2 separate regions of the Homo sapiens genome follow, and region 2 is linked to region 1. The links come from fine-mapping of genetic effects on gene expression. Tissue or cell type: whole blood. Region 1 holds a variant in brackets; the other region holds the start of a gene. All regions are shown on one strand. Distances are from middle to middle.

Region 1 (5,151 bases):
GAAAGCTTACATTTCTGAAAGTGTCTCTATTCTTCATTCACACTTGCATGTTAGCTTTGAATTCATCATATTCCAGCTTCTAGCGTTGTGCTTGAGAAGAGCAAAGCTATTGCCATTTCTGATCTGTAGTACATAACCTGCTATTTTTTTTTTTATCCTGGAAGCTTTTTAGATCTTATTCATAGTTGTTCTGAAATTTCACAATGTTGTGCCTTGGTAGGGGATTTTTTTTCCATTCATTGCCTTGGATACTCGGGTAGGCCCTTTCAATCTAGAAACATATGGTCTTCCATTTTAGAATTTTTTTTCTTGAATTACTGTTATTTTTTAAAACATTATTTCCTCCTTTCCATTTTCTGTATTCTCTCTTTATGGAACTCCAATTACTCAAATGTCAGACTTCCTAAATTGATGTAGAAGGTCTCTGATTTTCTAACTGTCTTTCTCCTATTTTCTGACCCTTTTTTCCTACTTTCTGTGATTTTTTTTTCAACTTTACCTTCTGACTTTTCTTTTTTCTTCTTTTCTTTTGAGACAGGGTCTCACTCTGTCACCCAAGCTGGAGTGCGGTGGTTTGATCATAGCTCACTGCAGCCTTAAACTTCTAGGCTAAAGCGATCCTCCTACCTTGGCCTCCCAAGTAGGTGGGACAACAGGCATGTGCCACCATGCCTGACAAATTTTTTATTTTTTGTAGTGACAGGGTCTCGCTATGTTGCCCAAGCTGGTCTCGAATTCCTAGGCTCAAGAGATCCTCCTGCCTCAGCCTTCCAAAGTGTTGGGATTACAGGCATGAGCCACCACACCTGACGTCTTGAATTTTTAGTTTCTACTATCACAGCTCAACCTTCCATGAATGCTTTTATTCACTGAATATTCAGTTTTAAGAAACAATATTGGCTGGGTGCGGTGGCTCACGCCTGTAATCCCAGCATTTTGGGAGGCTGAGGCTGGTGGATCACCTAAGGTCAGGAGTTCGAGACCAGCAGGGCCGACTGGCAAAATCCTGTCTCTACTAAAAATATAAAAATTAGCTGGGCGTGGTGGCACATACTTGTAATTCCAGCTACTCGGGAGGCTGAGGGAGGAAAATCCCTTGAACCCGGGAGGCGGAGGTTGCAGTGAGCCAAGATTGTACCACTGCACTCCAGCCTGGGTGACAGAGGAAGACTCCATCTCAAAACAAAACAGAACAAAACAAAGCAAAACAAAGAAAGATTTGCATGTATGATGGAGTGATTTTAGAATGGGGTGATCAGACAGGGGCCAGTCATTCTTGGGGGAATCCCCTATGATACATTTCCATGTCTCTTCTTTTGGTGGTCAGTTTCCTATGGGAGTTCTCTGAACTCCCTCCCCATAGTTATAAATGTGTCTGCCAGTGTCTAGGAGTCAAATATGAGGACAGCACGGGTTGGTACATTGACTTTCATTTCATCCCCCTTCTTTGATACTCATCTTCCACCTTCAGTTGTTCCTAAGTCCAAAGTTCCTCTAACTCAAACTCCCCATACAATAAGTGGTCCGTCTCTGATGAAGGCTGAGAGAAAGTAGTAGCTTGTTGCATAGGCTAAGGGAAGAACTGCAGGGATTAACTCTCATTTTTTTTTGAGATGGAGTCTCGCTCTGTGGCCCAGGCTGGAGTGCAGTGGCACCGTCTTAGCTTACTGCAACCTCTGCCTCCCAGGTTCAAATGATTCTCCTGCCTCAGCCTCCTGAGTAGCTGGGAATACAGGCATGCACCACCATGCCTGGCTAATTTTTGTATTTTTAGTAGAGAGGGGGTTTCACCATGTTGGCAAGGCTGGTCTCAAACTCCTGACCTCAAGTGATCTGCCCGCCTTGGCCTCCCAAAGTGCTGGGATTACAGGCGTGGGCCACCGTGCCCAGCCTTAACTATTGCTTAAGAAAACTTTTTATTTTTATTTTTTTCTTGCCCTGTTGCCTAGGCTGGAGTGCAGTGGACCGAGCATGACTCACTGCAGCCTCAACCTCCTGGGCTCAAGTGATCCTCCTGCCTCAGCCTACTGAGTAGCTGGGACCACAGGTGTGCATCACCAGCCCCTGGCTAATTTTTGTGTTTTTTGTAGAGATGGGGTCTTACTATGTTGCCCAGGTTGGAAGAAAACTTTTAATCAGTGCTCTAGTTTTCAGCCGCAGCCATGCCTTTTCAGAAGTATCTGGTACCTCCAATTCCTAAGCCTTTGGGGTGTTTCAGAGGCATGGATTGGCTTGTTTTCTTGGCTTCCCCATTTTGAGACCCTTTACTCTGGTGTGTGAGGTTCATTATCTCTCAAATTTCCAGCTTAAAAATCTTTTTGATCCTTCTCTTTGCTCTTACCTCTCTTATGGACTTATGCTTTTCAAAAAAAGTCTCTTGCCTCACATTTTAGTGGGGTTTTGGGAGGAGGCCCAGGAGTATGCACATGTTCAACCGGCTATGTTTAATGGGAAGTCCTCCGAGCCCACAGAGTTTTCAACTCTCGTTTTATTGAACTAGGCCTCCTCATATAAACCTATGTCCAGTTTTAAAATGGAAGTCAAGTAAAAATGTGATTTGATTCACATAGTTTTAAGAACAGCTTTTATTTATTTATGTATTTATTTTTTGAGATGGAGTCTGGCTCTTTCACTCAGGCTGGAGTGCAGTGGTGTGATCTCGGCTCACTGCAACCTCTGCCTCCTGGGTTCAAGCGATTCTCTTGCCTCAGCCTCCTGAGTAGCTGGGACATCAGGCGTGCACCATCATGCACAGCTAATTTTTGTATTTTTAGTAGAGACGGGGTTTCACCATGTTGGCCAGGCTGGTCTCGAACTCCTGACCTTGTGATCCACCTGCCTTGGCCTCCCAAAGTGCTGTGATTACAGGTGTGAGCCACCACGCCTGGCCTAAGAACAGCTTTTAGAGATGCTTTTGGCCTATGTGGCTAGATATGAATTCTCACTCTGAGTATAATTGTCTGACTGTCATGTGTTGACTGTGTACACACAGCTCAAACCCAGAGTCCAGCCTTGTCTCTTCTGATGAAATACCAGTGC[C/T]CACAAACAGAAGGTTCCCCTTCTCTCACCCATGAATAAACAGGAAGGTCTCTTGGAGCTGTGGTCTTGGGGCTGTAGCCCTGCCCCTAATTTCCTCAGACCCTTTACTGAGAACTGAGTCATTGCAACATCATGCTCAGCCAGCTGTCTCAGCACAAGAAAAAGCTTTGCTGTGGTATGAGGTTTTGTGGGCTGCAGACTACATCTAGGTCAGCAAATTAAACTCCATAGTGTGGTTACCAATTCCAGCTTCATCTAGCTTAAGGGCTGTCTGATTTCACCCTCTGGGCATTGGCTCTTCTGGTGTTTGGGATATAAGGCCCCTCTGTGGGTGTTTAAGGCACAATATTTCAGGCCTAAACCACCGAATGACACATGCCTAAACCCAGAATCCTGTATTCTCCACCAGGACTCCAGGGTATGTGAGGGTAACAATAGTCCAACCCTGCAGATAATGAGATTTGTGTGTGTGTTAGAACAAAGGGGAAAGGTGGGGATGTATTTCTTTGATGCTCAGTTTCATCTACCACTTGTATTTCTCTCCTGCCCTTCTTTGACCCTAACATGATCCAAACCCTTCTTTCTTGCTTCTCTTTTATGGAAGTTTTGAAGAATGGATGGTTACATAACAGATGGCCAGCTGGTCTACCTAGAAGGGCCTTACAAAGGACAGTGCCTCCGTGGGGAAGGCTCACCCTGGATCAGACGCCGGATTGCAGATTTACCATGAATGAAGCCCTTGGAGACTGAATCATGTTAAAAATTCAAAAACAACTCAGTAAATATTTATTTGAAGTCCTGCTGTTCTTCAAGGCCCTGGAATGCAGATATGAGAAGAGTCACTGCTGCCCAAGAGCTGACTGACTGTGGAGGAAGACCATGCTAGCAGGTGGCTACGTTTTCTACCACCTAGCACCTGCTCCCCCTTCTCCTGGTAATGGTATCTGCAAATAATCTCCTCAGTCTGTGTGCTTTCAGTGGAACTGAATCTACCCCTGGTTCAAGAGCTCAGGTACAGCCTCTGGCCTGGCTGCAGTGATTAGTTTAGAGATGGACTTGTAACCTCATCAAAGCCCGATATTGTTCAGGGTAACATACTAGATATATTTTGCTAGGATTGCCAATAATCATTTATTTAAGCTCCTTAGATGAGGTTTCCTGTCATTTGCAACTGAAAAAGCTCTGTGTAGCAGGTTGAATAGTGTTCACCCCCTGCCCAAAAAATACACTCACATCCACCCAGAACTTTGGAACTTTAGAATATGATCTTATTTATTTATTTATTTATTTGAGACAGAGACTCACTCTGTCGCCAGGCTAGAGTGCAGTGGCATGATCTCAGCTCACTGCAACCTCAGCCTCCCAAGAAGCTGGGACTACAGGTATGTGCCACCACGCCCAGCTAATTTTTGTATTTTTAGTAGAGACGGGGTTTCACCATGTTGGCCAGGATGGTCTATCTCTTGACCTCATGATCTGCCCACCTCAACCTCCCAAAGTGCTGGGATTACAGGTGTGAGCGACGGTGCCTGGCCTGATCTTATTTTTAAAAGAGCCTTTACAGATGTAATTAGTTAAGGATCTTGAGATGCAATCATTATGGATGTAAATTTAGGTGGGCCCTAAATCTAACAATTGGTGTCCTTATATGATGAGGAGATATCACAGACGCAAAGACACAGGGCATATGACCATGTGAAGAGGAAGGCAGAGGGTAGGGCGATGCTGCCGTAAGACAAGGATGCCTGGGCCACCAGAGGCTAGGAAGGGGCAAGGAAGGCCCTCCCCCTTAGAGCCTTCAGGGGGAGCATAGCTCTCCTGACACTTTGATTTCCAACTTCTAGCCTCCAGAATGGTGAGAGAGAATTTTCCACTGTTTTTAAGCCAACCAGCTTGTGACACTTGGTTAATGGCAGCCCTAGGAAACAAGTGCACTCTAACATGTGAAATCACTCAACAGATATTTATTGGTTCCTAATAATGTGTCTGAAAAGGACTTAGTATAAAATCCAAAGAAGAGGGACATGGAGGCTGTAGAGAGGTATTAGAGCTGGGACATTAGGAAGCCTAAAGAACCATCTGTCCCACTGTCCTGCACCCCGATGGGTGCCT
Region 2 (5,151 bases), 75 kb before region 1:
ATTCTAGTTGCGTAGAATATGTTATGGAAACAGGATGTGGAAATAGAATTGGATATACAAGACTGCTAAAGATTATACGAAACGAGGACGCTGCCTTTCTTTTAAAGTGATAATTTACTGTGTCTTGTTTTCTGTTGTGAGAATCGGCTAGCCTGAAAACTGATTAAGTAAAACTGTACTTGAAAATTAAGTAAAACTTAACTACACCTAGCACTAAACACTGCAAAGAACATTGTGATTTACATGGTTTTCTCTCCCTGGACCAGTAGAGGGAGACTAAGACATCTGGCCTGGTCTTGTAGTGTTTCTGTAAAATTGGGGAGGGGGGGAGCGGAGGCTGTATTTAAATGTCCTGCTGTCAATCAAAAGACACTTCCTACAATCACAGTCACCATATCTGCTATTACTCGTGAGCGTGCTCTCGCCAAGAGACAACACCAAACGGGGCCCGGGAAACCGGCTTCAACTAAAGGTGACCGCAGGCTTTGCCACAACACCCAAATAAGGACTTTGGGAGCCCAACCCCAACTAGTTTCTTTGTTTAAATGCCTGTGAATCCCTCCCACGCCGGAGTCAAGAGGCTGTGGCGCCGCCCTTTATTAGCCTCACACTTTGATTACAAAACACACGAGTCGGCGGCCTGGCTGCGGAGGCGGCCCGAGCTCTCAAACGTCAAACCCGGAGCGCGGCGGCGGCTGAATCAGAGGGCAGCGTCCGCCGCCGCCGCCAGCCGGCCCCGCAGCGTCCGCCCGGCCGACTCAAGTTCGCCGGCACCGGCGCCCGGGCACAGCCGCAGGCGGTCCCGGTGTCGCCAGCTTCGAGCGATGGCAACTGCACTCTTTGTAAAGTTTAAGCCGCGGCGCGAGGGCAACGCAGGGGGTCCGGAGAAGCGTTCCCTTCGGGCCGCCGCAACCCACTCCATCTGCCCCAGTCCCGGCGACCCGGGTGTGTGCGGGGGCCCAGGACCGCGACCCGGGTCAACCTGCCGCCCGCCGGGGGCCCGGCCCCAACTTCCCCGGCACCTTTCAAGTCCCCGAGAGCGAGTGCCTCATCTGTTGCTCTGTTTACTCCGCGGAGCCCCGCCGAGCTGGCTGGCGCGGTCGCCTCTCCGGCCCGCCGCTGCCCCCGTCCCACTGGCCCAGGAAGTTTGATAAAGACGGGGAAGGGGGCGCGACAGGGACCCGCGGCGCGGAGGAGACGCGGGGCCGGGGCGACCCCATCGCCGCCCGGAAGGAAGGCAGGCGCGTCGGCCGGCCGGGCAGAGCGGCGGGGCGGCCGGCGACTCCGGCCGGAGCCCCGGGCGCGGCGGGGCGGGGCGGGGCGGCGGCGGCCCGGGCTGGCGAGGGGCTGCGGACCCGGCCGGCGCTCCGCCCGACGCCCCCGCCGCGCCCGCCCGGCCGCGTCCCCTCGCCCCAGGCTCCCCCTGCCAACTTATCCGCCGGCCCTCTTTGTTCGTGTTTGTTGTGGCGACTCTTCGCCCGGGCCAGGCGAGCCCACCGGCTCCCCTCTGGAGCCCGCCCGGCGAACCCGGGGCACCGCGCGCCCCACTGCCCGGCCGGGGGGCTAGGCACCGGGGCCCCCTGAAAGCTGGGCGCGGCGCGGCGGCCCGGCCCGAGGGAGGCGCGGGCGGCCGGCGGCGGCGGCGGTTGGTCGGTGGCCGGCGGTGGCGGCTGCGGGGCTGGAGGGGGTTTATTTACCTGCCGTGGAACCAGTCCTTGCAGATATCGCACTCGATCATGAAGCGGTTCACGTCGTACGGCTGCCGGCACACACAGTACACGGGCGGGGGCGGCGGAGGCGCCGAGGCCCGGCCGGGAGCCGCCACCGACACGGCTGCCGCGGCGGCTCCAGCTGCTGCTCCCGCGGCCACCGCCGCCGCCGCTCCGGCCATCTTTAAAAAACACACACACGCTCGCTCGCTACTCCGCTCGCCGACTGGAGCGAGCGCAGCCGCCAGCCAGCGCCGCCTCCTGCAGCAGCCGCGGCGGCGGCGGCGCCTCAGTGCGCGCGCGCGAGGCCGCGGCGGCTGGCGGAGGGGGAGGAGGCGCGCGCGACGCGCGAGGCCCAGACTCGGCTGCTTCCGGCGCTCGGCGCGGGGCCGTGCGTCTCGCGCACGTCTCTGGCGCCGGCGCGCGCTCCCCGCTCCTCTCCGCGACGGCCGGGCGGAGGGAGCTGTTGAAGGGCACGCAGGCGGCTGCGGGGGCGGAGGGAGCTGAGGCCCCGTGAGGACACGCGCGGTGGTGGCGGTGGCGGCGGGCGCGCGGCCGCAGCCGGAGGAGGACGGCGGGAGCGTGCGAGGAGCTGGCTCGGTTATTTCGGAGCGAGAGCCGAGGCCGGGGGAAGTTCCTGCGGAGTGCTCAAGGGCAGAAGAGGTGCCGCGTCCCGAAGAGGGGAAGCGGAGAAGTTTGCTGCTGCCCGGGTCGCCTCGCGACGCTGAGAGAATCGCCCAGCCCTCCGCAGCCGCCCAGCGAGAACCGGAGCTGCGGCCCCGCACCGGCGTGAGTCCAGCTGAGCTGACACGCCGAGCCGGTTGTGCCTTTCCGAGGGAGGAATGTGCCGTGGAATCCAAACTTTGGAAAACGTCCCACCCGAATTCCCAGCGAGCAGCAAGGAGACCAGAGCGTCGATGGAGCCACCGTTAGTTGCGGGAGGGCTGTCCCCAAGAGGAATTCATCACTGTCGTCCGCTGGGAGGGACCAACCTTGAAATGGGGTTGGTGGAGAGAGGGATAGAGAAGAGCCGGCGTGCTTATAAATAACAAAACTTAGCTATGAACCCTTCCGATTCCCAAGTGGGGAAGATGGGGTAAAATTCTAAGTGACTTCTCGCTCCGAAGAGGGATACCACAAAAAGCGGAGCGCAGGGTACTTGGCGTATAATAAGCCATCAATAATTTATGGGTGAAATTGAGAGCCAAATATAAGATGATAAACTGAAGAATAAAAACAGCTGACAAATACTGTATAGAAAAGATTGCGTTGGAATCATAACTGTGGATTGGAAGTGATGTTAAGGATTATTGGATTGAGTATTTGTAGCTGAATTTCTGCTGGCATTTCTATCAGTGGGGAAAGCCCTCACAGCTCCATAGGTAATTTTTGTTAGGGGAGGAAGAAGTGTTGTTCTGTCACCCACCCCCAGGCAAAGAGTCGCTGATCTAATTCTCCATTTCTTTCTTTCTTTCCTTTCTTTCCTTCCTTCCTTCCTTCCTTCCTTCCTTCCTTCCTTCCTTCCTTCCCTCCCTCCCTTTCCTTTCCTTTCCTTTCCTTTCTTTCCTTTCTTTCTTTGAAACGGAGTTTCGTTCTTGTTGCCCGCGCTGGAGTGCAGTGCAGTGCTGTGATCTCGGCTCATTGCAACTTCCACCTCCCGGGTTCGAGGGATCCTCCTGCCTCAGCCTCCCAAGTAGCTGGGATTACAGGCGCACGCCACCGCACCCGGGTAATTTTGTATTTTTAATAGAGACGGGGTTTCACCATGTTGGCCAGGCTGTTTGAACTCCTGACCTCAAGTGATCCGCCCGCCTCGGCCTCTCAAAGTGCTGGGATTACAGGCGTGAGCCACCAAGTCCTGCCTAATCTCCTTTTTATAGTTGAGGAAAGCTAGTAACTTGACTGAAGTCTCATATATTAGAGCTGTAACTGAAGTTTTTAAGTGTCTCAATTCTGCAACTATTCGTTTTTCTATCACATCACTGTTTGGCATATATATAGCGGGAAAAGGAAAGGCTGGAAATTAGTTGACCACACACTGATTAAGCTTGAAACATATTTCTACTGGAGAAAAAAAGGTACTGTAATTTTGGCATAGGCATCACATATTGCTGGAGTGGAAAGACCCATGCACTCAGGTCCTGCTTTCTATAATCTGTGACCTCGGGCCAGTCACTCCATTTCTCCTGAACTAGATCACTGATGATCTGTTGAAAGAAAAAATATGGCTAGTAATGCCTTAATTATCTCACAGAGGTTTTACATGGAGCAAAAAGACAATGTATTTTTAAATGTACTTTGTTGAAGGTGTGTGTTGTCGAGACAATACAGCAGTGAAGAGAAGGCATGCAAAGCTGTCTTGTTGGAGTCTGGCTAAAGAGCACCAAAGCAGCCTGTTGTGGGATGTCCTCTGGGGGCCACCTGGACTTGCTATGTTAACATGGAGGGACTAGGCAGGGGTATGAAGAAGGAAGCCCAGCAGAGCAGGAGGCAGCAGCAACAATGAGAGATTGGTTATCCATATGACTTGGATCTGTGTCCCCACCCAAATCTCATGTTGAATTGTAATCCCCAATGTTGGAGGTGGGGACTGGTGGGAGGTGACTGGATCATGGGGGTGGATTTCTTATGAATGGTTTAGTACCATCCACTTTGTATTGTCCCCGTGGTAATGAGTGAGTTCTTAAGAAATCTGGTCATTGAAAAATATGTGGCACCTCCTCCCTCTCTCTTTTGCTCCTGCCCCGGCTATATGATGCAATTTGTCTTCAGCCATGATTGTAAGTTTCCCGAGGCCTCCCCAGAAGCTGAGCAGATGCCAGCATCATGCTTCCTGTACAGCCTGCCTTCCATGAGCCAATTAAACTTCTTTCCTTTACAAATTACACAGTCTCAGATATTTTTCTCTTTTTTTTTTTTGAGATGAAGTCTGGGTCTGTCGCTCAGGCTGGAGTGCAGTGGTGCGATCTCAGCTCACTGCAACCTCCACCTCCCGGGTTCAAGCAATTCTTAGGCCTCAGCCTCCTGAGTAGCTGGGGTTACAGGTACCTGCCACCATGCCCGGCTAATTTTTGTAATTGTAGTACAGAAGGGTTTCACCATGTTACTCAGGCTGGTCTTGAACTCCTGACCTCAGGTGATCCACCTGCCTCAGCCTCCCAAAGTGCTGGGATTACAGTTGTATGCCTCAGATATTTATTTATTTATTTATTTATTTATTTATTTTTATTTATTTTTCTTTTTTTTTTTTTTTTTTTTTTGAGACACAGTCTCACTTTGTTGCCCAGGCTGGAGTATAGTGGCATGATCTTGGCTCACTGCAACCTCCGCCCTCTGGGTTCAAGGAATTCTTTTGCCTCAGCCTCCCAAGTATCTGGGATTACAGACGTGCACCACCACAGCCAGCAAATTTTTGCATTTTTAGTAGTGGCCAGGCTGGTCT

The links. PIP is the estimated chance that this variant, and not a neighbour inherited with it, causes the effect.
Region 2: it holds the start of KDM7A, and the variant in region 1 is fine-mapped to the expression of KDM7A in whole blood (TOPMed, PIP 0.96).

Annotation. Positions count from the first base shown.
Region 1 is chr7:140,249,913-140,255,063 of GRCh38, forward strand. LOC107986854 (a long non-coding RNA gene) reads left to right here. Exons shown (of 2, transcript XR_001745386.2): 2 at 3,644-4,297. Among named protein-coding and RNA genes, the nearest start is that of KDM7A-DT, 75 kb to the left of the region's middle. RefSeq lists enhancers at 2,872-2,921, 2,952-3,021. The variant C/T (reference allele first, on the strand shown) is at 3,040.
Region 2 is chr7:140,175,047-140,180,197 of GRCh38, forward strand. It overlaps KDM7A (lysine demethylase 7A), which reads right to left and starts at 1,937. Exons shown (of 20, transcript NM_030647.2): 1 at 1,698-1,937. The coding sequence starts at 1,891. It overlaps KDM7A-DT (KDM7A divergent transcript), which reads left to right and starts at 2,215. Exons shown (of 1, transcript NR_024451.1): 1 at 2,215-4,594. RefSeq lists silencers at 666-945, 956-1,135, 1,776-1,875, 1,916-2,345 and an enhancer at 1,570-2,493.